Homo sapiens: one gene and its partners. The protein of the gene in region 1 purifies or fractionates together with the protein of each later gene. This does not show direct contact. Each region holds a gene or a part of one and is shown in the gene's direction. Other genes may lie near its edges. The genes, in order: USP10, EIF4G3, ANKRD28 and EIF4G1.

Region 1 (7,047 bases):
AAAAAAAAAAAAAAGAGCGAAACTCCATCTCAAAATAAATAAAAAAGTTTATAGGTTAATAACCTTATTTCCAAATATTAGAAAGTGTTGGTTGATCCCTGTTACCTGTATTGAAGTGTAATAGTGAAGAATTTGGAAACATTTTGAGACCGGTAACTCAGCATTTTAGCAAAGACAAATAAATGAACTTTAACAGTTGAAGTGTAGGTCCAAGTGAATATCCTTGTCACTGAGGGGACCGGTTAAATTATTTGGGGTAATTAATTTGAAGCTATTAGTTTTGCCTTACACCGAAAAAATATTTGTGATTATTGATGTCATTTATAGTGAAATCTCCACAATAATGCTTCCTACACCCAATTTGAATGTCATGCAGTTGGCTTCTGTCCTTGTCTCTGCATAGACTCACCCCAGTCTCTTTTTTAGCTTGTAATAGCAGATCCTCCACATTTTACATGATGGAAAGTCTTGGATTCCCCCTCTAGCATATGGCTGAATGTTACTGTATTGCTGAATATCTGTTTCTAGCCAACAGCTGGATTAGTGTTAATTCTTAAAAGAGATACATTTTTATTAGAATCTCAAGTAATGAGCAGCTGAAGTAAATACAATTGTTTGAAATGTTGACAGGGCATTTGGAGATAACAGTTTTCCTTTGCATAGTGACAGCAAGCTATTTAAACATGTCCTAAGAGTAGATGTTTTAAGTTTGTGAGCCAGTGGTCACCTTAGTGGTTTGTACAGATGGCCTGAGAAGTTTGTGAGCCAGTGGTCGCCTTAGTGGTTTGTACAGATGGCCTGAGCAGCCGCGCCGTACCAGGACCTCACCATCATGCTCTTGAGCCCATCTCATTGAGAGCACAGCGCACTGAAATTCCAGTGAATACTAAGCGGGCCTACCACATTCTAAATTCCTCACTAAAGCAAAAGTTAGGACATGTATTCCAGTGTTCTGTTACGTGGAACTGATAGGATTTAAGCAGTGATTCACATAGGAAAACTTAAAGGAGAAAAGGATTACGAAGCTTAATGATTGCTGTTTAATGCCAAGCCTAAGCGGCACGTTGCACTGTGCTGTGCTCAGAATATAACATTCAAGTAATTGAGAAAAGTGGTATCATCTCCAATTGAATTAGTTACATCAGGGTTTTTGTTTCGGTTTTTTGTTTGTTTGTTTGTTTTTAAAGATATAATTTCAGACATGTAGGTACTTCCTGTTAATGGTTCCTGGTATTCAGGTGGCACATTAAACGTGGTTGCTGAGGACACTTATTACTGGTACTATACCAAAATATGAAACGTAGTGGGAAGAGCTTGCTTTTGAATTTGTAATTAGGCTGTTACTTTTCTATTTACTGCCACACATGCAAGAATCACCATCGCACAAAACAGATAAATCTGTTTGCAATGGAATTTGCTGGCCTTGGGCCATTGGATTACTGTCATTTGTCACTTTAGTGCCACTTCAGCAGTGTAGATGTTCATTTCCAGAGACTTGTATGTGCTTGGACTGCAGTTTTCCTGTTTATTGAAGTGTTCTCCCAAAAGGTCTTTCTTTGACCATTTCTGTCAATACAGGCTGGATGAAGAATTAGTGTAGGAAAATAAAGGTAGCCCTTGGGGTATGTGTATAGTATTTGTTTCAAGGATCAGAAAATGTAGAATTTATCATAAACCTCGATGTAGAATCTTCAGATCCTAGATTTTTTCTGAACTGGCTATTTTCTGGCTATTTGAAAGCTCCTGGGCCATGATCCCATTTTCATCAGATGACTTGAGAACCCAGAAGCTCTACCAGCACTGCCATTCTGTCCCGTCTTGAAACATCATGCCCTGGTTGCCCTCTCCTGGAATAGGGCAGGTAAGGTGTTGAGATAGAAATGTGGTTTGGGGCTGTTACAGCCTGAATTCCTCGACTTTCCCTTTTGGGCTCACATGAGAATTGTTAGGAGAATGTGCATGTGGAGTGCGGGCCCAGCACCTGCTACCGTCTGCGCTGTAATGGTGGCTGCTCCTAAGAGTCCTCAGTCTCCTCCCCGTTGGGCTTGTGTGTACAGCCTTATCGGTTGTCATTCTTCGGATCCATTCTCAGTTTATTTTTCTGGTATTAGCTGGAGGGACATCTCCTTAAGCCTGTACTCTATGGCTCAGGAGTCTCAAAACCAGTCCATTTTGAAGTGAGAGTATCCCTAATAAAAAGGTGAGTGTCCCCACTCCTGTGCCTTGTTTTTTTTGTTTGTTTTTTTTTTTGAGACGGAGTCTCGCTCTGTCGCCCAGGCTGGAGTGCATTGGCGGTATCTTGTCTCACTGCAACTTCTGCCTCCCGGGTTCAAGTGATTCTCCTGCCTCAGCCTCCTGAGTAGCTGGGACTACAGGCACCCGCCACCATGCCCAGCTAATTGTTTGTATTTTTAGTAGAGACTGGGTTTCACCATGTTAGCCAGGATGGTCTCCATCTCCTGACCTCACGATCCGCCCACCTCGGCCTCCCAAAGTGCTGGGATTATAGGCGTGAGCCACCACACCCAGCCACTCCTGTGCCTTTTGAACCTGATTTTTACATCTAGCTGACTCCTCCCTCCGTCCCTTTCCCTCTTTCTTTCTTCCTGATCTGATGGTGCTAGATTTTTGTTTTCCCATTTGTCTTTGTTTTATGAAGATGTGCTCCTTTCCATTTGTGTATGTTGAGTACAGACATAATCATGCCCTTGCTTGCTTTTTTTTTTTTTTTTTTTTTTTTGAGACAGTCTTGCTCTGTTGCCCAGGCTGGAATGCAGTGGTGCGATCTGGGTTCACTGCAGCCTCTACCTCCCAGATTCAAGCGATTCTCCTGCCTCAGTCTCTCAAGTAGCTGGGATTACAGGTGCCTGCTACCACGCCCAGCTAATTTTTTTGTATTTTTAGTAGAAACGGGGTTTCACCATGTTAGTCAGGCTGGTGTGGAACTCCTCACCTCAGGTGATCCACCTACCTTGGCCTCCCAAAGTGCTGGGATTACAGGCATGAGCCACTGCCCCCAGCATCCCTACTCATTCTTTGAAAAAAACAATTTGTTGTTGTTTTGTAGAGACAGGGATTTGCTGTGTTTCCCAGGCTGGTCTTGAACTCCTGGCCTCAAGGGATCCCTTCTGCTTCAGCTTCCTAAAGTACTGGGATTACAGGTGTGAGCCACCGCGCCTAGCCTCCCTATTCATTCTGCAAGTATCAGTCTTTTTACTTTTGATAGGACATGTTGAAGTTTTGGTTAAAAATAGAAGAGGATTTGAAAATGAAGTTCAATTCTAGAGGTTTTCGAGATTCCTGCCCAATATAAAAAACTTCTGATACATTAAAACAATTTTTTTATACTTCATTTTTTAGAGCAGTTTTAGGTTCACAGCAAAATTGAGAGAAAAGTACAAAGAGTTCCTATATACCCCTTCTCTTGGTATTTTAAGTAATAATTTCCCTTACGTGGCTGCAAAGACTATATATATATTTATATGTATTTATTTGTATATGTATTTATATTTATTTATATTTTTATATTTATATATATTTTTATATATATATATTTTTTGAGACGAAGTCTTCCTCTGTCACCCAGGCTGGAGTGCAGTGGCGCAATCTCGGCTCACTGCAAGCTCCGCCTCCCGGGTTCACGCCATTCTCCTGCCTCAGCCTCCGGAGTAGCTGGGAATACAGGTGTGCGCCACCACGCCCAGCTAATTTTTTGTATTTTTAGTAGAGACGGGGTTTCACGGTGTTAGCCAGGATGGTCTCCATCTCCTGACCTCGGGATCTGCCCACCTCGGCCTCCCAGAGTGCTGGGATTACAGGCGTGAGCCACCGCGCCGGGCCAAGACTATATATATATTTATTCAAGACCTGAAGTAGGCTTTCTGGGTAGATCTGATCATTGGAGAAGGAGAAACATATTTATTACGAGATACTAAGCATTGTAGTAGTCATCATTTGAAGCCTATAAACTCTATAAACTGCATAGTTTAGAAAGTGCCTTAGCTTGTTTGAGCCTTTACAGCAACTCTGTCCTGTATTATTATAACCATTTTACAGATGAGTAAGATAAGACCCAGAGAGGTTGTGGCTTGAGGTCAAATGGCTGCTGGCCATCAGGACCTTTTAAAAGCAGGTGTTTTGACTTCTAAATCCTTTGCTTTTTCTACTTTGCCAGACTGGTTTTCTGGAAGAGACTGATGAAGGCATAATCTTTCACACTGTGACTTCCCCTTAGTAGTTCCTCCATAAACATTTACAGAATGAATGAATGAAATGTGCATTTAGAAACTTTAATGTTACTAATTACAAAATTTGTTACTATAATATGTTACTATTCACTAAAGTTTGTGTGGGGTACATTTTAATAAAGTCGTTTATTTTATTTTCTAGTATAAAGACATGCTATTTTTAAGACACGAAAACAGCACAGACGTATTTAAAGTGAAAAGTAGAAGTCATTCCCTTCCTCTCTGATCCTTAATCGTCAGTTTGGTGTGTGTCTTCTATGCTTTTTTCCACTGGAGTATTTTGTTGTTGTTGTTCCGTTGTTTCATAATATGGTCTGTTGTATCTAGTCACTGAACTTTATTGAGCAAACCTTGTTTTCAAAATTATTGAAAACATCCACTGAAGTCAGTTTTCTTAGGTTTACCTAATTTTGCCAGGGAATGAAGCAGATATTCTGGAGATTGAAGTGACTTATCAGGATCCAGTGTGCAGGGGATTGTGGAAGTGCTGCCACAACTTATAACATGTTGTCCAAACAATTTTTTTTTTTCTTAAGAAATATTTTGGGCCAGGTGCAGTGAGTGACTCACGCCTGTAATCCCAGCACTTTGGGAGGCTGAGGCAGGCGAATCACTCAAGCTCAGGAGTTTGGGACCAGCCTGGGCAACGTAGCAAAACTCTTTCTCTACAAAAATACAAAAATTCACTGGGCATGGTGGTGCTCTCCTGTAGTCCCACCTACTTGGGAGGTTGAGGTGGGAGGATCGCTTGAACCTGGGAGGTGGACATTGTAGTGAGTCGAGATTGTGCCACTGCACTTCAGCTTGGGTGACAGAGCGAGACTCTTACGTCAAAAAAGAAAAGATAAGAAATATTTTGAAGACTTCCACCCCCTTAGTAGTAGTCATGCTGTCCGGTGTTCATAGTGTAAAAAGAGGTCTGGCTGGGCGTGGTGGCTCACGCGTGTAATCCCAGCACTTTGGGAGGTCGAGGTGGGTGGATCACCTGAGGTCAGGAGTTTGAGACCATCCTGGCCAACATGGTAAAACCTCATCTCTGCTAAAAATACAAAAATTAGCCGAGTGTGGTGGCGGGCACCTTTAATCCCAGCTGCTCCGAAGGCTGAGGCAGGAGAATAGCTTGAACCCGTGGGGGCAGAGGTTGCTGTGAGACAAGATCACGCCACTTCACTCCAGCCTGGACGAAAGAGTGAAACTCCATCTCAAAAAACAAAAAAGGAGGTCTGATTCACATTCAGATTCTTGTCCATCCATTGCCTTTGCACTAGATTTATGAGAGGACAAACTTTTTATTAGTTGGAGATTGGTAAGTCACCTGCCCTAGGGAATAATGAGAAACTGGGTAATTCACCTGAATTTTTCTCCATCTTCTTCAAAATCATGTTTTTGTCTTCTGTCACTTTGTTTCATCAGAGTACTGCAATGGCAAAAAACAAAACACTTCCCAACTCAGGTCCCACTCCTGAGAGATAACCACATTTAAGTACTTCTGACTTGTAATAGAATGCAAAATCGGGGCTTCCAAGTGTGGTTTACTATTTTGTTTAGAATTAATTTGTAGAATACTAGACACTTTTTTCAGAACCACATATGAAGGACTTTATATCTTTTGTGATTGTTCACAGATTTTGGTGGCCGGACGTTAGGAGTATAGAGCTGAAGAGAGAATTCCTGTGCTTTAGAGGTTCGCTGGGTAGTGAGGGAGAGAAGCAGGCTAATGGCTGGGTGCATCCAGTTTTAGGGTGGTAATTCCTGTAACACAAGTGTGAACAACATAGTCAAGAACATTCATTCATTCGTTTGTTCATTCATTCAGCAAATAGTTACCGAGTGGCTGCTGTGTACCAGGCACTGAGGAGGGAGTGATGAGCGAAAACAGGCATTGTTTCTCTCGCGGAGGAGTTTATGGGTCCATTGAGGAAGACAGCTTGCTAATCAGATAATCACAGTTACGTACACGTCACTCCAAACTGAGAGATGTTTCCCAAAGGAAGGGAACACAATCTGAAGTCAGAGAACCGTTCCCGTGGAAGTGACGTGTTTACAGCATGAGACAGTGGGGACAGCATGTGTGGTGGACCTTTGGCTGGAGGGAATTTGGAGCACTTTGGAGAACTCAGCAAGGAGTTGTGTGTCTTGGGCACAGAGCTGGAGGGGAGGGACAGACGCACCATCCAACCTTGCAGCCTTTGTTAGATGTTACTGTCTTTATTCTGAGAAAAGTGTGGAAGAGGGGGTGGTACAACATTTGACCATGGAACCTCATAATCACATTGCCTTTTGGGATCATACTCTGCCCAGTGAAGAATAGACTCACGGGGTCGCAGTGGCCATAAGGAGATCATTTAGGGCAGGGTCCTTGGACTTTTGACTCGGAGGGTGCCGTGGAGGTGGAGAGAAGTTGCGTGACTCAGGAGTTAGGTATAAGGTGTTTCAAAAAAGGAGGAGAGTGGGACTGAATGTTGGGCAAAGCTGGGAAGACGTCTCTTGTAGAACGGTGACATTTGAGCTGGAGTTTTTCAGGCAGAGAAGCACACGGACAAGGGCATGTGGAGGAGACTGTGCAGAGGAACTGTCTCAAAGCCTGCAGCCTGTTTGGGAAACAGATAAATTTGTGGCTGAAATGGTGTGTAGGGTGAAGTGGTTAGCCGGGAGTCTGGAGAGGAGAGAGAAAGAATTTGGTAATCCAAGCTCAGGACTGAGTGAAGTTGGTAGCAACTCTGTGTTAAGATAGCTGGTTGAGGCCGGGTGCGAGGCTCACGCCTGTAATCCCAGCACTTTGGGAGACCGAAGTAGACGG
Region 2 (3,919 bases), on another chromosome or scaffold:
CAGGCCTAATAAAACTTTCCACAGTGATGGTAGTATATATCCATACCATTGAGTATGGTAATCATGAGCCACATGTGGCAATTCTATACTTAAATATGTCTGTTGTGACTTAGGAACTGAATTATTGACTTTAAATTTAAATAACCATGTTTGACTAATAGCTTCCATATTGGACAACACAGGTCTAGGGCATGAAAATGGTTAATGATGTTGAGGATGATACTCTAGAATCTTTAGACACCCAACAAAGACCCTAAGTGTAGTGTATTTACCATGCTATATTTACTAAGGAGTTTCAGAATAGTTTTTAGTTAAGGGTTATGATTAATTCTTGGCTAATGAAACAAAGTAACCTGTACACTTAAGTCTTAGTGATACTTGGTGTTAACTAATGATTTTTATTACATCTTGAAAATTCAGTTGGTATTTGTTAAAGCGGGCAGTACATAGCTATTAGAGAGAGCACTCAAGTAGTTCTTTGGTACTTCCTTATTTTCGCTTTTGTAAAATTCCTTCTTTCCTAGTCCTGAATCGCTCTTGGAGATAAAGGAAAAGATGAAAGCAAATTATCCTTATAGTGTAACTGAAGAGACAATCTACCATGAATCAGATAATTTGATAATATTAGCTTAACTAATATAATTACAAAGATAAGTCTTTTTAAAAAAAGGCCGAGGCATGCAGATCACCCGAGGTCAGGAGTTTGAGACCAGCCTGGCCAACATGGTGAAACCCCGTCTCTACTAAAACTACAAAATTAGCTGGGCGTGGTGGCGCATGCCTGTAATCCCAGCTACTTGGGAGGCTGAGGCAGGAGAATCACTTGAACCCATGAGGCGGTGGTTGCAATGAGCCGAGATCATGCCACTGCACTCCAGCCTGGGCAAAAAGAGCAAAACTCCATTTAAAAAAAAAAAAGTTAATACGACTCATGATAAACCTAATATTGATTAGCATTTATTGTTTATTCCACTGCCTCCCTCCATTAATATAAATGATCGGAGAGCTGACTATAATAACTATAAGCTAATAACTTATTATATATGATAACTATAATTCTCAGTTTTACTATGAGAGTAAAACCGAGAATTAAAATCACACGGATAGTTTGGACGTTTAAAACAGTAAATAACAGGTGTAGTTTCACTGGATAAAATCCAGATGAGATAGCTTTTACTCATGTTTTCCATGTGAATGATCACCTCTTGTTCTTTTTTGAGACGGACTCTCGCTCTGTCACCCAGGCTGGAGTGCAGTGATGCAATCTCAGCTCACTGCAAGCTCCGCCTGCCGGGTTCACGCCATTCTCCTGTCTCAGCCTCCCTAGTAGCTGAGACTACAGGCACCCGCCACCATGCCCGGCTAATTTTTTGTATGTTTAGTAGAGACGGGGTTTCACTGTGTTAGCCAGGATGGTCTCGATCTCCTGACCTCGTGATCCGCCTGTCTCGGCCTCCCAAAGTGCTAGGATTAAAGGTGTGAGCCACCGCGCCCGGCCACCTCTTCATTTTTAAAACAACATTACAAGGAATAAAAAGCATATCCTGCCTTTCTCCCTTCCCCCAAATTTTGTAAAAATAATACAGTAAACTTGCAGCGCAGAAAATAGTAAAAAGAAAGTAAAAAACTACTCGTATTTAAATTTTATAGGGTTTAGATTGAGATAAACATGATATGAAACAGCTTCACTGGTATCAGAAGATAGTTCAGATTGGGCCGGGCACGGTGGCTCACGCCTGTAATCCCAGCACTTTGGGAGGCCAAGATGAGCGGATCACCTGAGGTCAGGAGTTCGAGACCAGCCTGGCCAACATGGTGAAATCCCTTCTCTACTTAAAATACAAAAATTAGCTGACTGTGGTGGCCGGCGCCTGTAATCCCAGGTACTTGGGAGGCTGAGGCAGGAAAATTGCTTCAACCCAGGCAGGCGCCTGTAATCCCAGGTACTTGAGAGGCTGAGGCAGGAAAAATTGCTTAAACCCAGGCAGGCGCCTATAATCCCAGGTACTTAGGAGGCTGAGGCAGGAAAATTGCTTAAACCCAGGAGGTAGAGGTTGCAGTGAGCCAAGATCGCACCACTGCACTCCAGCCTGGGGACAGAACAAGATTGTCTCTCAAAAAAAAAAAAAAAAAAAAAAAAAACAGAAAAAAAGTTCAAATTGTACAAAATAATAGGAATAAAAAAGAATTTAGACTGCTTCAATCTTTTTTTCCTCTTCTTTAAACAAGTTGTTGGGCTGTTTATACTGTCAAGAGCAAGTATGGTGAATTGTCATTATTGCTTTTTTCTGGGGGAATTAATGCACATTTATTCAGTCATTCATTATTTTGAAATATATTCTTTTCCTCATAACTACAGTGTCCCAAAGCTTATAGTTTATTTTCACCTCCTTGCAGATTTGCTGCGGATGTTTTTTGATTGTCTATATGACGAGGAGGTGATCTCCGAGGATGCCTTCTACAAATGGGAGAGCAGCAAGGACCCTGCAGAGCAGAATGGGAAGGGCGTGGCTCTGAAATCTGTCACGGCATTCTTCACGTGGCTGCGGGAAGCAGAAGAGGAGTCTGAGGATAACTAAAACTTCAAATACACAAAATGAAACAAAAGAAACAATTTAAGTATTTTTTTAAAAAGTTTCACGTCTTCGCCAATCACAGTGCAGCAAGGCCAATTCTCGCAGAAACCCCCACGTGTGCACGAGTGGGAGAGGGGAAAGAGAAAAAAAGGTGATCATGGAGGAAAAAGGTACTGGATAAAAGTAAACTTCAAACCTTAGGGCGGGAGCACTAAAACCAAAATACATGTATTATTTATAGAAAATATTTTCTGTTTTAATCTTTTCTTTTTAAACAAGGACTCATACTTAAAAAAATGTTTAGCAAAAAAAAAAAAAGTTGAGAACTTTTAATTTATTTTAAGGACTGCAAATGCCAGTGTAATTTTTTAATTTGCAGTTTCTGTAAACAACTTGTATAATAGAAAAGCAGAGAAATAAATTTCCCTCCCCTTCAAGATGCACCTCATGTTTGTTTTAAGGTATAGCATTTAGTCCAGATTTGAGAAAGTTTGGGGTGAACAAGGTAAGAAAGATTTTTTTTTTTTTGGCATCAAATCTTTCTGCCTGCCTCTCAGCTTGCTTCAGAAAATTTAAAAAATCACAATAGTAATCAAAACATACATAACATTGAAACAGAAGGAAATGCTGTGGACCACAGAACTCCAAGAATTGTTTAAAAAAAAAAAAGTGCTACCCTGAGAAAAGTACTCTTAATACTCTTGAAATCTTTAGAGCAACTTTAAGGCTTGTAAATACATAGAACAAATATTTAAAAAAACAAAAAGAAATTGACTCAGTACTATTTCTTTTCACTTTGAAAATATAAAGAACAAAATAAAGACAAACATTGCAAGTTTAAAAGAAAGTAAAGTGACTTCTCCTTTGGACAGCTGCTGCATGTGTGCCCATTCCTGGGGGTGCTGTCTGGCTATTTATTGTCTAATTCAAATCACTCCTGAGGGGAGAGAGATAAAACGAGAGAGAGTGAGAGAGTGTGTGTATGTGCGTGTATGCGCACGTATGTGCATGCACATGTATGTATGTATATGTCTCTACTCACTGAAAAGGCAAGCTACTTTGTGGGTAAGGAGGGCACTTGTGCTTGGGTGGGAATGCCCCACTGGGAGTCCAGTGAAACTTGTTTCCAACACTAACTAAAAATGCATTCAGGACAGTAGGCCTCAAGGGCAGTCCTTTAGATAACTAAGTTTTCCACTCTGTGTATCAGGACTCAGGACAATAATTCACTTTGAGACTGCCACTACCACTGATTTTAAAATCTTCCATCAATTGCCTGCAATGCTTAAGAAACCCAAAGATGTCCTCTAAAGAATGAATAAAACCAAAAGCTATATTATGCT
Region 3 (7,047 bases), on another chromosome or scaffold:
TTGAAATTTTTCAAACATAGGGAAGTTAAAAAAACATGCTGACTACCCATATACCTTTCACTTACTTTTGGCATTGATAACATTTTGCCACATTTGCTTTCTGTATTTATTAATATACAACTTTTACATATATATGTAGTAAGTTGCAGAAATCATGATACTTCACCATTAAATACTTAACTGTGCATTTCAAATGAGGATTCTTGTAAGTGTATATCTAAATATAAGATCAGATTTGCTTTTTGTAAATAATCATGGTGAGTGTTTTACAATGGTGCTTGATTAATTTTTGTCAGATTAGGTTTTCAGTAAAGTCATTGTTGGAAAAGTTTTCAGACTTAACGATACAGTAGTATATTCAGTGCTGACATGATGGACAGTTTTAGAAAGGTGGATATATGGATAATTTTCTCTCTCTGTTATGTTTTTTCAGTGGCCAGTATTTAGTTTACTAAGTTGTGGCTGAAAGTACATTACGTACTCTAACAAAATTACATCCACTAATGTATATATTTTTACCAGAAACAAATGTACCCCTGAGTTATGGAGGGGGTGAAAAGTCATATGATTCACAAAGTCGCTGTGGCAACACCAAAACAGATGACCTAGAAATGATTGTGGTTTTAAGAAAGCACCCATTGCAAGCTCATTTTTAACTCTCATCTTTCCTCCTTTTTTTTTTAATATAATACTGCTGTGACCACTTAATGTTAGGTAGATACAAAAAAGTTTTACCTTATTTTTAAAATAATGAATTATCTGAATAGATTTGAATCATTGGCTAAAACTGTTGTTAATTTTAACATTGGGTAATGAACAGAATGCTATCATTATATATTTTTTAAAATTTTTTCTAAGTGAATTGCCTTCAAGTTTATATTTAGTTGGAAACATGCACCTAATTCAGGATTTATGTATGTATGTATGTATGTATTTATTTAGAGACAGAGTCTGGCTCTGTTGCCCAGGCTGGAGTGTAGTGGCATGATCTCCGCTCACTGCAACCTCTGCCTCCCGGGTTCAAGCGATTCTCCTGCCTCAACCTCCCAAGTAGCTGGGATTACAGGCACCTGCCACCACGCCCGATTAATTTTTGTGTTTTTAGTAGAGACAGGGTTTCATTCACCATGTTGGCCAGGCTGGTCTCAAACTCCTGATCTCAGGTGATCGGCCCGCCTTGGCCTCCCAAAGTGCTGGGATTACAGGCGTGAGGCACTGTGCCGGGCCATGATTTATTTGTTTTAAATGAAGTGTCTGGCTACTTTACCCAGGGTATACTGAAGAGTATGCGTTTCTTAGAAAATAGCTCAAGGGGTATAGACGCATGAAAAGGTGGAAAACATGTTTTCCATTTAACTCCTAAGGTTTTCTTGTTATTTTGGTTTTATTTTAATAGTACTGACAAATACTACCTTGATTAGAAAGTTTGAACTATAATTCCATTTACCAGGGCTAATTTCTCCATCATTACAAAGTTTATTGTAGCTGACATTACTTTTATGTTATATTTAATCAATTTATCCTAAATTAAAAAAAAATTCAGAGTCATTGAGAGCATCAGCTCACTCATCAGTAGGCCTTTCTTGAGAGTAACTCTTTGACAATTGTCTTCAGTGATACAAAGGTTTTTGACAACAACTTTTATGATTGCTTTTAGGCCTTTTCTCTCGTGACCCTTTCTTAGTAGTTGAGAGTGTTGCCTTAAAGTCAAGATTTGTTAACTTTTTGGCCATTATTTGAATTTAAGATGGTAAATATCATCTGATTTTGTCTGATAAGGAATCATATGGGGTTTTAAAAGGCAATGGGTGTTAAATGCACTGACTTTTAATAGGTAATAAAATATTTTTAAGCTTTATGTCAGTGTGACAGTCGTGTTTTTCCAAAGTAAATTTATTTAAATAAGTATTTGGAGAATAACGTTGGACTTTTTGAAACTCAGGTTTCTCTTAAGTTTTTTGAAGTTGTTTTTATTCATTTTTAGAATGGATATAAGTTCAGATTTATTTCTCTACCATTAAATAGTCATTGTATAATTTTAGATGAGTTTCTTTAGTCACACCCTGAGGTTTTGAATATTGTAGACCACTAAACAGCACGTTTCTTAGTAACACACCTAATAGATTTTTCTTCTTATTTTAGTGGGTTTTAAAAAAAATTTGTGGGTACATAATAGGTGTCTATATTTATGGGGTACATGGGATGTTTTGGTACAGGCATGTAATGTGAAATAATCATATCATGAAGAATTAGGTATTCATCCCCTCAAGCATTTATCCTTTGAGTTACAAACATTCCAATTACATTATTTAAGTTATTTTAAAATATACAATTAAGTTATTATTGACTATAGTCACCCTATTGTGCTATCAAATAGTAGGTCTTATTCTATTTTTTTGTACCCATTAACCATCCCCACCTCCCACTCAACCCCCCATTACCCTTCCCAGCCTCTGGTAACCATCCTTCTGTTATGTCCATGAATTCAGTTGATTTGATGTTCAGATCCCACAAGTAAGTGAGAACATGTGATGTTTGTTTTTCTGTGCCTGCCTTATTTCGGTTAACATAATGATCTCCAATTCTATCCCTGTTGTTGCAAATGACTGGGTCTGTTTTTTTATGGCTGACGAGTACTCCATTGTGTGTATGTACCACATTTTCATTATCCATTCATCTGTTGATGGACACTTAGGTTGCCTCCAAATGTTAGCTATTGTAAACAGTGCTGCAACAAACATAGGAGTGCAGATCTCTTCGATACACTGATTTCCTTTATTTTGGATATATACCCAGCAGTGGAATTGCTCGATCATATGGTAGCTCTATTTTTAGTTTTTTGGGGGACCTCCAAACTGTTCTCCGTAGTGGTTGTACATTCCCACCAATGGTGAACAAGGGTTCCCTTTTCTTTACATCCTCACCAGCATTTGTTACTGCCTGACTTTTGGATAAAAGGCATTTTAACTGGGACAAGATGATATCTCATTGAGTTTTGGATATCTGATGATTAGTGATGTTGAGAACCTTTTCACCATTTGTGTGTCTTCTTTTGAGGAATGTCTATTCAGATCTTTTGCCCATTTTTTATCAGATTATTAGGTTTTTTCCTGTAGAGTTGTTTGAGCTCCTTATATTCTGGTTATTAGTCCCCTGTCAGAGGGGTAGTTTGCAAATGTTTTCTCTCGTTCTGTGGGTTGTCTCTTCACTTTGTTGATTACTTCCTTTGCTGTGCAGAAGCTTTTTAACTTGATGTGATCCCATTTGTCCATGTTTGCTTTGGTTGCCTGTGCTTGTGGGCTATTGCTCAAGAAATATTTGCTCAGACTAATGTCCTGGAGATTTTCCCCAGTGTTTTCTTGTATTAGATTCAGTTTGAAGTATTTAATGCATTTTGATTTGAATTTTGTATATGGCAAGAGATAGGGGTCTGGTTTCATGATTTTGCATGTGTTTATCCAGTTTCCCAGCACCATTTATTAAAGAGACTTGTCTTTTCCCAGTGTATGTTCTTGGCACCTTTGTCAAAAATGAGTTTGCTGTAGGTGTTTGGATTTGGTTTTGGGTTCTCTGTTCTGTTCTATTGGTACACGTGTCTGTTTTTGTGACAGTACCATGCTGTTTTGGTTACGATAGGTCTGTAGCATAATTTGAAGTTAGATAATGGGATTCCACCAGTTTTGTTCTTTTTGCTTAGGGTGGCTTTGGCTATTCTGGGTCTTTTCTGGTTCCATATAAATTTTAGTATTTTTTCTATTCCTGTGAAGAATTCCATTGGTATTTTGATTGGGATTGCATTGAATCTATAGATTGCCAGGACATTTTAACAGTGTTGATTCATCCCAATCCATGAACATGGAATATTTTTCCATTTTTTGGTGTCCTCTTCAATTTTCTTCATTCGTGTTTTATTGTTTCCATTATAGAGATCTTTTACTTCTTTGGTTAATTCCTAAGTATTTAATTTTATGTATGGCTATTGTAAACAGGATTACTTTTTAGTTTCTTTTTCACATTGTTCACTGTTGGCATATAGAAATGCTAGTGATGTTTGTACATTGATTTTGTATTCTGGAACTTTACTGAATTTATCAGTTCTAGTTTTCTTGTGGAATGTTTAGGTTTTTCCAAATATAAGATTATATCACCAACAAACAGGTATAATTTGACTTCTTCCTTCCCAATTTGTATGCCTTTGATATCTTTCTCTTGTCTGATTGAGCTAGATAGGACTTCCAGTACTATGTTAAATAACAGTGGTGACAGTGGGCATCCTTGTGTTGCAGGTCTTAGAGGAAAGATTTTCAGTTTTTCCTCATTCAGCATGATACTAGCTGTGGGTCTGTCATATATGGCTTTTATTATGTTGAGATATGTTCCTTCCATATCCAGTTTTTTGAGGGTTTTTATCATGAAGGGATATTGAATTTTTTAATCAAATGTTTTTTCAACATCAGTTGAAATGATCATATGGTTATTCTTTATTTTTTTGATATGATATATCATGTTAATTGATTTTGTGTTTTGAACCATCCTTGCATCCCACAGATAAATCCCACTTGATCATGATGAATGATCTTTCTAATATATTGTTGAATTCAGTTGTGCTAGTATTTTGTTGAGGATTTCTGCATTAATACTCATCAGCGATACTGGCCTGTAGTTTTCTTTTTTTGATGTGTCTTTGTCTGGTTTTGGTATCAGGGTAATACTGGCCTTGAATGAATTTGGAAGTATTCCCTCCTCTATTTTTTAGAATATTTTGAGTAGGATTGGTATTAGTTCTTCTTTAAATGTTTGGTAGAATTCAGCAGTGAAGCCATTATGTCCTGGCCTTTTCATTACTAGAAGACTTTTTATTACAGCTTTGATCTCATTACTTGTTACTGGTCTGTTCTGGTTTTGGATTTCCTCTTGTTTCAATCTTGGTAGGTTGTATATGTCTAGGAATGTGTCCATTTCTTCTATATTTTCCAGTTTATCAGCATATATAGTTGCTTACAGTAACCACTAACAAGCCTTTGGATTTCTGCATAAGTCATAATGTCTGTGTAAGTCGTAATTTCTGTGTAAGTTGTAATGTCTCCTTTTTCATTTCTGATTTTATTTGGATCTTCTTCTCTTTTTTTCTTAGTCTGGCTAAAGATTTGTCAATTGTATTTTTTTAAGTCAACTTTTTGTTTCCCTAATAGATTTTTAACAAACTTTAATTTTAAAAAATTATATATTCATATTATTTGGTATGACATGAAGTCTTCTAGAAGTCATGTAACATAGTTTCACTAGCAAATACTAGAGTTTTATATTTGGCAGATTTTGGCCACAGATATAATAATTGACTACCTGAATAAATAGAGGTTTTTTGCTTGTGTAATAATTTAATCTAGAGCATGGTAATTTGGGGTTGTTTAAAACAGCAATGTCAGAGCTCTGGGTGAGCTTCTCTGTGAAACTCTTGGCTTTCTCATAATAAAGAGATGACTGCTGTATCATGTACTTATGGGAGACAACCAAAGACATTGGAAAAGAGACTCTCCTGTACATTTTCTTTTCTTTTCTTTTCTTTTTTTTTTAAAAAAAGGAGAAAACCTCTCTTCGAAAGTCCCCACAAAATTCCTTCCTAAGGTTCCATTGGTTACAAGACTACTCTAAACTAATTCACCAGCAAAGCAGAATGGGGTTCGCTTTTTGCTAGATCAGTCTTGGTTCATCACCTGGTTCATCCCCTGGAGCAGGAATAGGGCTTCAGTGGACTTTATTGAATATATTGCCATATTCAGGAGTAAATCAGGATTTTCATAGGAAGGAAGAAAGGGAAAATAGTTGTTTGGATAGGAACCTAACTGGACGGTTATTAGTTGCCTAAAAACTGTTGAAATAGCAAAATTTTGGAAAAATAAGTCACCTGGATGTGGAAGAAGCACTGTAAACCATAAAAGGGTGAAATGCAATCAAAATGTTTTAAAAGCAGAGTGGTACATAGAATGTGAAGAACAGTTGGACTCTAAGTTGAAAGACCTAGATTTTCATATCTTCTTAGCCTTATTGGCTATACAAGTTGAGTGAATCCTGTTAACTTCAGCCCTCACTCTTCTTTTTTTTTGGGGGGGTAAATGTGTAGGGTTACATTAATGATCTTCACAGTCTTTCCCCACTCCAAATTCAGGACACTCTAAAAATTCTAAATGACTTTCAGTGACCTCCTGCTTTTGCCCAAAAGCTTTCATTTGTGTTTCTAGATTTTCGTGACCAAAATAATAAATGCCTTTCCCTAAGATTTACTAGAACTTAATGCCATGTTGTAGAACCCAAATAGGTTAATCTGAAATATTAATGATACCACATTTTAGAGGAAAACTTTGATTCTTCTTTATAAGAAAATTATTTTCTACAAATATTAATTTTTTATTAAGAGTATTAAAATTGGTGTTAATTGTAGAACTTTACTTTTGAGACAGACATAGGCATAAGCCATTTTGTATTACTCAATTTAACTTGTACAACAGTTTTATAAAATTGACAGGTTAACATTTCTACTAAAATTCACAAAAATTAACCGTCTGCAGAATCAGTATAGCAGAATGGGAATTTGAACCCATGTCCGACTTAATAGTAACTGGAGAAATAAAGCATATTGTTGAGAGAGAAATATTTTTTCTTCTGCCAAATAGTACTATAAAGCAATAATAGTTGGAAAATGGATGTTTCTCTCTAAAATAGTTATGTCTGTGCCCTATGAACTCCTGCCTTTTAAGCTGTGATACAAAGATAATCCTAATTTTTATAATACCAAGTGCTGTTACATTTTATCATTGCAAACAAGTGATGAGACAAATAAGACACAAGCCTTCTTTAGTGCCATATTTTTTTGGTAGATAAAAATGTCAAAGTAGTATTACACAAGGATCCAGCCAAACTGTTTTTAGTGTTTAAACATAGGAAGGCTGAGATTATGAGCAACCCTTTTTAAACTCTAAAGAGCTGATTTAAGAGCTAAGCGGTAGATCTTAGATGTAGCATATAACTTAATATTTTTGAAAGTGTTAC
Region 4 (7,047 bases), on another chromosome or scaffold:
CTTTTCCAGAGGTGGGACTTCCTTCTGGTCATTGCCCAGAGTTGGCTTGTCTTGTCTTGACCTATGTTCTTTTTGGAGTCTGATATGGAACTCATAGCTCCCTCAACTCCTTCTCTCCCTCTCCCCCTTCCCCACCAGGGGCGTTCCACATACGTTGTCCCGACACAGCAGTACCCTGTGCAGCCAGGAGCCCCAGGCTTCTATCCAGGTGCAAGCCCTACAGAATTTGGGACCTACGGTAAGCAGGGGAGGGAGTCAGAGGTGAGAACAAGCCCAAGGGAGCATCTAAACTCATCTGCTGATTTCTAAAGCAGAAGACCCTTCCCAGGCTTGGCTTCTGGTCTAAAAATGATAAGGTTAATAGGTGGTAGGGATTGGTGCTTAATATTTAACTGGTGTTGATTGTGGGGAGAAAATTTGATTTTATTGCCAGGAGAGTTAAGAGTCTTTCCCACATCAGGGAATGTAGGATCAGGCACCAGCCTGAGAGCCTATTAGTAGGCTTTCCCTGTGACACTTCTTCCATGGTTGGGAGCCCATGTAATGCAAATTTGGGAGGTTTTTGTAGCTATTTTTTATTTATGTTCTAGGGAAGGATTAGTCTGTTCTTTATGGCAGTGGCTTCCAAGTTTTTTGATCACCTATCAGGAAAAGTTTTGAGTATGAATCTCTCATACATGTATGTTTTTGTTTATATGTATGCAAAATTTAAACAAATACACTTGTGCTTGTCAAAAACAAGTGGAATTTAGGGATGAAATTAAAGAATGTGCCCGGATCTTGCTTGTAATCCCAGCACTTTGGGAGTCAGGAGGACTGCTTAAGGCCAGGAGTTTGAGACCAGCCTGGGAAACTTAGTGAGACCCTGTCTCTATTTTAAAATTTGAGGGGGGCTGAGCACGGTGGCTCACGCCTGTAGTCCCAGCACTTTGGGAGGCCAAGACAGGCGGATCACTTGAGGTCAGGTGTTCGAGACCAGCCTGGCCAACATAGTGAAGCTCCGTCTCTACTAAATTTTATTGTTATTATTTTAATTTTCTTTTTGAGACGGAGTCTCGCTCTGTCACCCAGGCTGGAATGTAGTCGCACAGTCTTGGCTCTCTGCAGCCTCCGCCTCTTGGGTTCAAGTGATTCTCCTGCCTCAGCCTCCCGAGTAGCTGGGATTACAGGCGTGTGCCACCACACCCAGCTAATTTTTGTGTTTTTAGTAGAGATGGTGTTTCATCATGTTGACCAGGCTGGTCTCGAACTCCTGGCCTCAAGTGATCCACCTGCCTCAGCCTCCCAAAGTGCTGAGATTATAGGCGTGAGCCACCACGCCTGGCCCTGTCTCAACTAAAAATACAAAAATTAGGCCTGGTGATGCACTCTTGTAATCCCAGCTATTCGGGAGGCTGAGGCAGGAGGATCGCTTGAACCCGGGATGTGGAGATTGCAGTGAACCAAGATTGTGCCACTGTATTCCAGCCTGGGCAATAGAGTGAGACTCCATCTCAAAAAAAAAAAAAAATTAAGGGGAAAAAAGAACTCACCCACTTTGGAGATAGTTTGCTTTAAGGAATTAATTTTTCTTCATCTTGAGCCTAGTTCATAATGTTACTTTGTTTCTTTGCCCCTTTGTAAAGGGCTGGAGACAGGAACTAGACTCAAGTTAAATGGAACAGGGTTGGCAGATCTCTTTCTCTCATTACCAGCCAAAGACCTGGTTCTGTTTCAGGTTCAGAGTATGTGTGTACATGTTGATAGCGGGTGGGGTACACACACGAGAGTAACTTGTACGGTGGAAGGACAGACATAAGTCCTCCTGGTCACTGGTGTGTGGTAGGAAAGAGTGCCTGCCTACGAGGGGTGTGTGTGTGTGTGTGTGTGTGTGTGTGTGTGTGTGTGTTTGTGTGTGTGTGTGTGTTAGGAATTCTTGTAAACGCAGTTCAGACTGGTTCCCCAGCTTTGACAGACACCTAATTCCCTGGGGGAGGAGGGCAGGGCAGGGCAAGGCAAGGGGCCGGCTGTGGGTGGTGAGAGGTTTTGGGGTGGGAGGTGTCAGGCAGGCATTAGTATATGGTTGGGCCCTGACGCTACCACCATTCTTCTCCGTCCCCCCTCCCCCAAGCTGGCGCCTACTATCCAGCCCAAGGGGTGCAGCAGTTTCCCACTGGCGTGGCCCCCACCCCAGTTTTGATGAACCAGCCACCCCAGATTGCTCCCAAGAGGGAGCGTAAGACGGTGAGTAGCAGTGAGGGGCTCCGGGACATCTGGGAAGGGGAGAATCAAGGTCAGGTGCTGCTGGGACATTGTGCCGGAAAGAGCAGTGACTTGAGGAGGAAGGAGCTGAGAGTGGGCAGAGAATGGTGTCTGTGGAGGGCTCAGGTTCTTTGTAAGATGCTAAGATTTCAGCATAGAAGCAGGTCATGGGAAGACTGAAGTGCCTAGCGAGGAAGTTCCTGCGAGACCTGGGTGCTGGGGGGTTGGAAGAACTATGCTTGGTTTTGGGTTTCTAGTGGCTTGCCTTGGAAATGGTTTGTTTTCTGTGGCCCCAGCCCCCATTCCCCCCTGCCCCCCCAGTCCTGGAAGCTCTCAAGGCCTCCGCCTCTGCTCAGTCCTCAAGCCCTGGGCGTGGTGCCCAGAATAGGGTGCCAGAGCTGGGGAAGCCGCTGAGTCACCCTGGCTCCACCTACTGGATCTGGGCCCTGCCCCCAGAGATCAGGCACACTAGCCACAAGTGAGCCGATTGGGTTCTAGATGGGGGTCCTGGGCCCCAGGGTGTGCAGCCACTGACTTGGGGACTGCTGGTGGGGTAGGGATGAGGGAGGGAGGGGCATTGTGATGTACAGGGCTGCTCTGTGAGATCAAGGGTCTCTTAAGGGTGGGAGCTGGGGCAGGGACTACGAGAGCAGCCAGATGGGCTGAAAGTGGAACTCAAGGGGTTTCTGGCACCTACCTACCTGCTTCCCGCTGGGGGGTGGGGAGTTGGCCCAGAGTCTTAAGATTGGGGCAGGGTGGAGAGGTGGGCTCTTCCTGCTTCCCACTCATCTTATAGCTTTCTTTCCCCAGATCCGAATTCGAGATCCAAACCAAGGAGGAAAGGATATCACAGAGGAGATCATGTCTGGGGCCCGCACTGCCTCCACACCCACCCCTCCCCAGGTACTGTCTGCTTTTCGAGTGATACCCTGGCTGGGATGTCTGTTCTGCCCTGGACTCCCAAGTCCCTGGATCTTTTCTTTCAACTAAGGGATTTATTTCCCTGCTTTCCTGGATTTCTAGGCAGAGCTAAAGTAGAAATGGCTCTAGTAAAGAAGGGTTGTGGGACTCTTCAGTGCAAACTTGGTAACCCTTTGTGTCCTGCAGACGGGAGGCGGTCTGGAGCCTCAAGCTAATGGGGAGACGCCCCAGGTTGCTGTCATTGTCCGGCCAGGTAAGTAAGCCGGTGGGACGGAGCTTTTATGGGGAAAGGGAATGTTAACAGTTAAATGCTGAGGTGGTGGAGTGACTTGAACTGGGTACCAGAGAATGATGACTTAGATTTCAGGTTGTGGGATTTTGAGGGTGAATTGGGTTTTGGATGAAAGTGGAAGTATAGCTTAGGTGGGGAGAAGATGATGCGGGGTTATTAAGTTGGGAATGCCTGGGCTGGAGGATGGGGAGGAACAACAGCAGTTAAGCACTTGCCTTTAGTTGCTCATTCTTCCTTCCTATGGTGCAGATGACCGGTCACAGGGAGCAATCATTGCTGACCGGCCAGGGCTGCCTGGCCCAGAGCATAGCCCTTCAGAATCCCAGCCTTCGTCGCCTTCTCCGACCCCATCACCATCCCCAGTCTTGGAACCGGGGTCTGAGCCTAATCTCGCAGTCCTCTCTATTCCTGGGGACACTATGACAACTATACAAATGTCTGTAGAAGAATCAACCCCCATCTCCCGTGAAACTGGGGAGCCATATCGCCTCTCTCCAGAACCCACTCCTCTCGCCGAACCCATACTGGAAGTAGAAGTGACACTTAGCAAACCGGTTCCAGAATCTGAGTTTTCTTCCAGTCCTCTCCAGGCTCCCACCCCTTTGGCATCTCACACAGTGGAAATTCATGAGCCTAATGGCATGGTCCCATCTGAAGATCTGGAACCAGAGGTGGAGTCAAGCCCAGAGCTTGCTCCTCCCCCAGCTTGCCCCTCCGAATCCCCTGTGCCCATTGCTCCAACTGCCCAACCTGAGGAACTGCTCAACGGAGCCCCCTCGCCACCAGCTGTGGACTTAAGCCCAGTCAGTGAGCCAGAGGAGCAGGCCAAGGAGGTGACAGCATCAATGGCGCCCCCCACCATCCCCTCTGCTACTCCAGCTACGGCTCCTTCAGCTACTTCCCCAGCTCAGGAGGAGGAAATGGAAGAAGAAGAAGAAGAGGAAGAAGGAGAAGCAGGAGAAGCAGGAGAAGCTGAGAGTGAGAAAGGAGGAGAGGAACTGCTCCCCCCAGAGAGTACCCCTATTCCAGCCAACTTGTCTCAGAATTTGGAGGCAGCAGCAGCCACTCAAGGTAAGGTGTGGTTGGACGGTAGAGGTAGGGCGGGCTAGGGGATATCGTTCCTTGCCCTCCTTGATGACCGCCCATTTTTGACATGTTTCTGGGTCCCTGCAATGGAATCTAAGAACTAGATTAAGGACTTTTAAGCCTAAAAAGGGTGATGCAAAGGGGAAATACTGTTCTTTGGCTGCTTTCTATTTCCCAGGGATTAAGGGTACTCCTTAAATTATTGGCAAAGATCCATGCTTTTATTTATTTATTTTTAATTAGTGGCAGTATCTGTGCCAAAGAGGAGACGGAAAATTAAGGAGCTAAATAAGAAGGAGGCTGTTGGAGACCTTCTGGATGCCTTCAAGGAGGTAAGGGAGCAGAAAATGGGAGGGGAGAGGGCCAAGTTGAGGTATGGAGCAGTGGTCATTCTGCAACCAAAACTGGATGTTCTGTTGTTCTAGGCGAACCCGGCAGTACCAGAGGTGGAAAATCAGCCTCCTGCAGGCAGCAATCCAGGCCCAGAGTCTGAGGGCAGTGGTGTGCCCCCACGTCCTGAGGAAGCAGATGAGACCTGGGACTCAAAGGAAGACAAAATTCACAATGCTGAGAACATCCAGCCCGGGGAACAGAAGTATGAATATAAGTCAGGTATGCTGAAGAAAGGGTTGAGAATGGCTTGAGTTTTCTTATTAGGGCCAGAGGAGGCAGTATGATTGCTTCATTCTGTTTTCCTTGCAGATCAGTGGAAGCCTCTAAACCTAGAGGAGAAAAAACGTTACGACCGTGAGTTCCTGCTTGGTTTTCAGTTCATCTTTGCCAGTATGCAGAAGCCAGAGGGATTGCCACATATCAGTGACGTGGTGCTGGACAAGGTTAGTGGCTTCAGTTGGGGAGGGGACGATAAGTTTGTGCTGGATGGATTGGGGAGGAGCCTGAGGTCCTGAAAGAGTAGTCAACCGCTCTAGCCTGCTTCTGAGACCTTTTCCTGTCCTCTTTGCAGGCCAATAAAACACCACTGCGGCCACTGGATCCCACTAGACTACAAGGCATAAATTGTGGCCCAGACTTCACTCCATCCTTTGCCAACCTTGGCCGGACAACCCTTAGCACCCGTGGGCCCCCAAGGGGTGGGCCAGGTGGGGAGCTGCCCCGTGGGCCGGTGAGTGGGGCTGGGTAAAGTGGCAGGTGGGCAAGGAGTGGGAGTGGATGATTCCGTGTCTCAGTGCCCGCGGGGAGGGGTTTGCCCTGGAGGCGTGTAGTAGTGGTGTCACATATTGTGCTGACTAGTTCCATGTCCCCTCTTGTCTTCATCCCTTGCTTAGCAGGCTGGCCTGGGACCCCGGCGCTCTCAGCAGGGACCCCGAAAAGAACCACGCAAGATCATTGCCACAGTGTTAATGACCGAAGATATAAAACTGAACAAAGCAGAGAAAGCCTGGAAACCCAGCAGCAAGCGGACGGCGGCTGATAAGGATCGAGGGGAAGAAGATGCTGATGGCAGCAAAACCCAGGTACTGGCAAGTCCTGCTTTTGGTCTCTCTCCATTTCTTCTCCAGGTCTGCCATCTGTGCCCTCTTTGCTTCTTTTTGTCCTTATCACTAGCATCTGTCATGCCTAAGTCCCCACCACCCTCTCCTGTCCCTCCCAACAGCCTGTTCTGAGACCCTCACTGGAACTCTTGTCTCTTCTCCCTCCAGGACCTATTCCGCAGGGTGCGCTCCATCCTGAATAAACTGACACCCCAGATGTTCCAGCAGCTGATGAAGCAAGTGACGCAGCTGGCCATCGACACCGAGGAACGCCTCAAAGGGGTCATTGACCTCATTTTTGAGAAGGCCATTTCAGAGCCCAACTTCTCTGTGGCCTATGCCAACATGTGCCGCTGCCTCATGGCGGTTAGTTTCCAGTGGGTTCTAAATCTAATGGTCTGGTTGCCCATTCCTATTCCCAAGACTCCTTGAGTCCAGCTTCTTGGTTCCCCTCCAACTTGTGCCTCTTCCAGCTGGAAGGAGGCAGAGCTGGGGCCAGAGATCTTCCTGGGTCAGGTAGTTAAAGGCTCTTGGAGGGCCTTCCCTGCCCAGGACTAGTCTTGAGTGTGACATTCTCTCTGACCTACAGCTGAAAGTGCCCACTACGGAAAAGCCAACAGTGACTGTGAACTTCCGAAAGCTGTTGTTGAATCGATGTCAGAAGGAGTTTGAGAAAGACAAAGATGATGATGAGGTTTTTGAGAAGAAGCAAAAAGAGATGGATGAAGCTGCTACGGTGAGAGAAAACCCACTATCGATTCCACTCACCACTTACCTCCTTCCCTTACCCAGATGCTACTCAGCTGTAGAATTTGGAATGGAGGTAGTGGTGTCTTGGGGATTTCTCTGGCTCAGGACGTTTTTTTTCCTTTTTGAGACAGTCTTGCTCTGTCACCCAGGCTGGAGTGCAGTGGTGTGATCTTGGCTAGCCTCCACCTCCTGAGTTCAAGCGATTCTCCTGCCTCAGCCTCCCAAGTAGCTGGGATTACAGGCATGTGCCACCATACCTGGCTA

What was found.
Region 2: the proteins of USP10 (region 1) and EIF4G3 purify together in Homo sapiens (affinity purification with mass spectrometry; 2 studies listed by BioGRID and IntAct, with this or other methods). This does not show direct contact.
Region 3: the proteins of USP10 (region 1) and ANKRD28 purify together in Homo sapiens (co-immunoprecipitation; 3 studies listed by BioGRID and IntAct, with this or other methods). This does not show direct contact.
Region 4: the proteins of USP10 (region 1) and EIF4G1 purify together in Homo sapiens (affinity purification with mass spectrometry; 4 studies listed by BioGRID, with this or other methods). This does not show direct contact.

The regions. Positions count from the first base shown.
Region 1 is NC_000016.10:84,703,000-84,710,046, forward strand, and holds part of USP10 (ubiquitin carboxyl-terminal hydrolase 10), read left to right. Parts: intron 1-1,740; exon of another isoform or gene 1,741-1,828; coding exon of another isoform or gene 1,829-1,861; intron 1,862-7,047. UniProt on the Homo sapiens protein: Hydrolase that can remove conjugated ubiquitin from target proteins such as p53/TP53, RPS2/us5, RPS3/us3, RPS10/eS10, BECN1, SNX3 and CFTR.
Region 2 is NC_000001.11:20,805,979-20,809,897, reverse strand, and holds the end of EIF4G3 (eukaryotic translation initiation factor 4 gamma 3), read left to right. Parts: intron 1-2,397; coding exon 2,398-2,579; 3' UTR 2,580-3,419; downstream 3,420-3,919. UniProt on the Homo sapiens protein: Component of the protein complex eIF4F, which is involved in the recognition of the mRNA cap, ATP-dependent unwinding of 5'-terminal secondary structure and recruitment of mRNA to the ribosome. Functional homolog of EIF4G1.
Region 3 is NC_000003.12:15,787,964-15,795,010, reverse strand, and holds part of ANKRD28 (serine/threonine-protein phosphatase 6 regulatory ankyrin repeat subunit A), read left to right. Parts: intron 1-7,047. UniProt on the Homo sapiens protein: Regulatory subunit of protein phosphatase 6 (PP6) that may be involved in the recognition of phosphoprotein substrates. Involved in the PP6-mediated dephosphorylation of NFKBIE opposing its degradation in response to TNF-alpha.
Region 4 is NC_000003.12:184,317,579-184,324,625, forward strand, and holds part of EIF4G1 (eukaryotic translation initiation factor 4 gamma 1), read left to right. Parts: intron 1-138; coding exon 139-238; intron 239-2,110; coding exon 2,111-2,223; intron 2,224-2,684; exon of another isoform or gene 2,685-3,051; coding exon 3,052-3,144; intron 3,145-3,348; coding exon 3,349-3,415; intron 3,416-3,703; coding exon 3,704-4,525; intron 4,526-4,783; coding exon 4,784-4,872; intron 4,873-4,965; coding exon 4,966-5,152; intron 5,153-5,242; coding exon 5,243-5,376; intron 5,377-5,504; coding exon 5,505-5,663; intron 5,664-5,826; coding exon of another isoform or gene 5,827-5,829; coding exon 5,830-6,015; intron 6,016-6,201; coding exon 6,202-6,399; intron 6,400-6,622; coding exon 6,623-6,769; intron 6,770-7,047.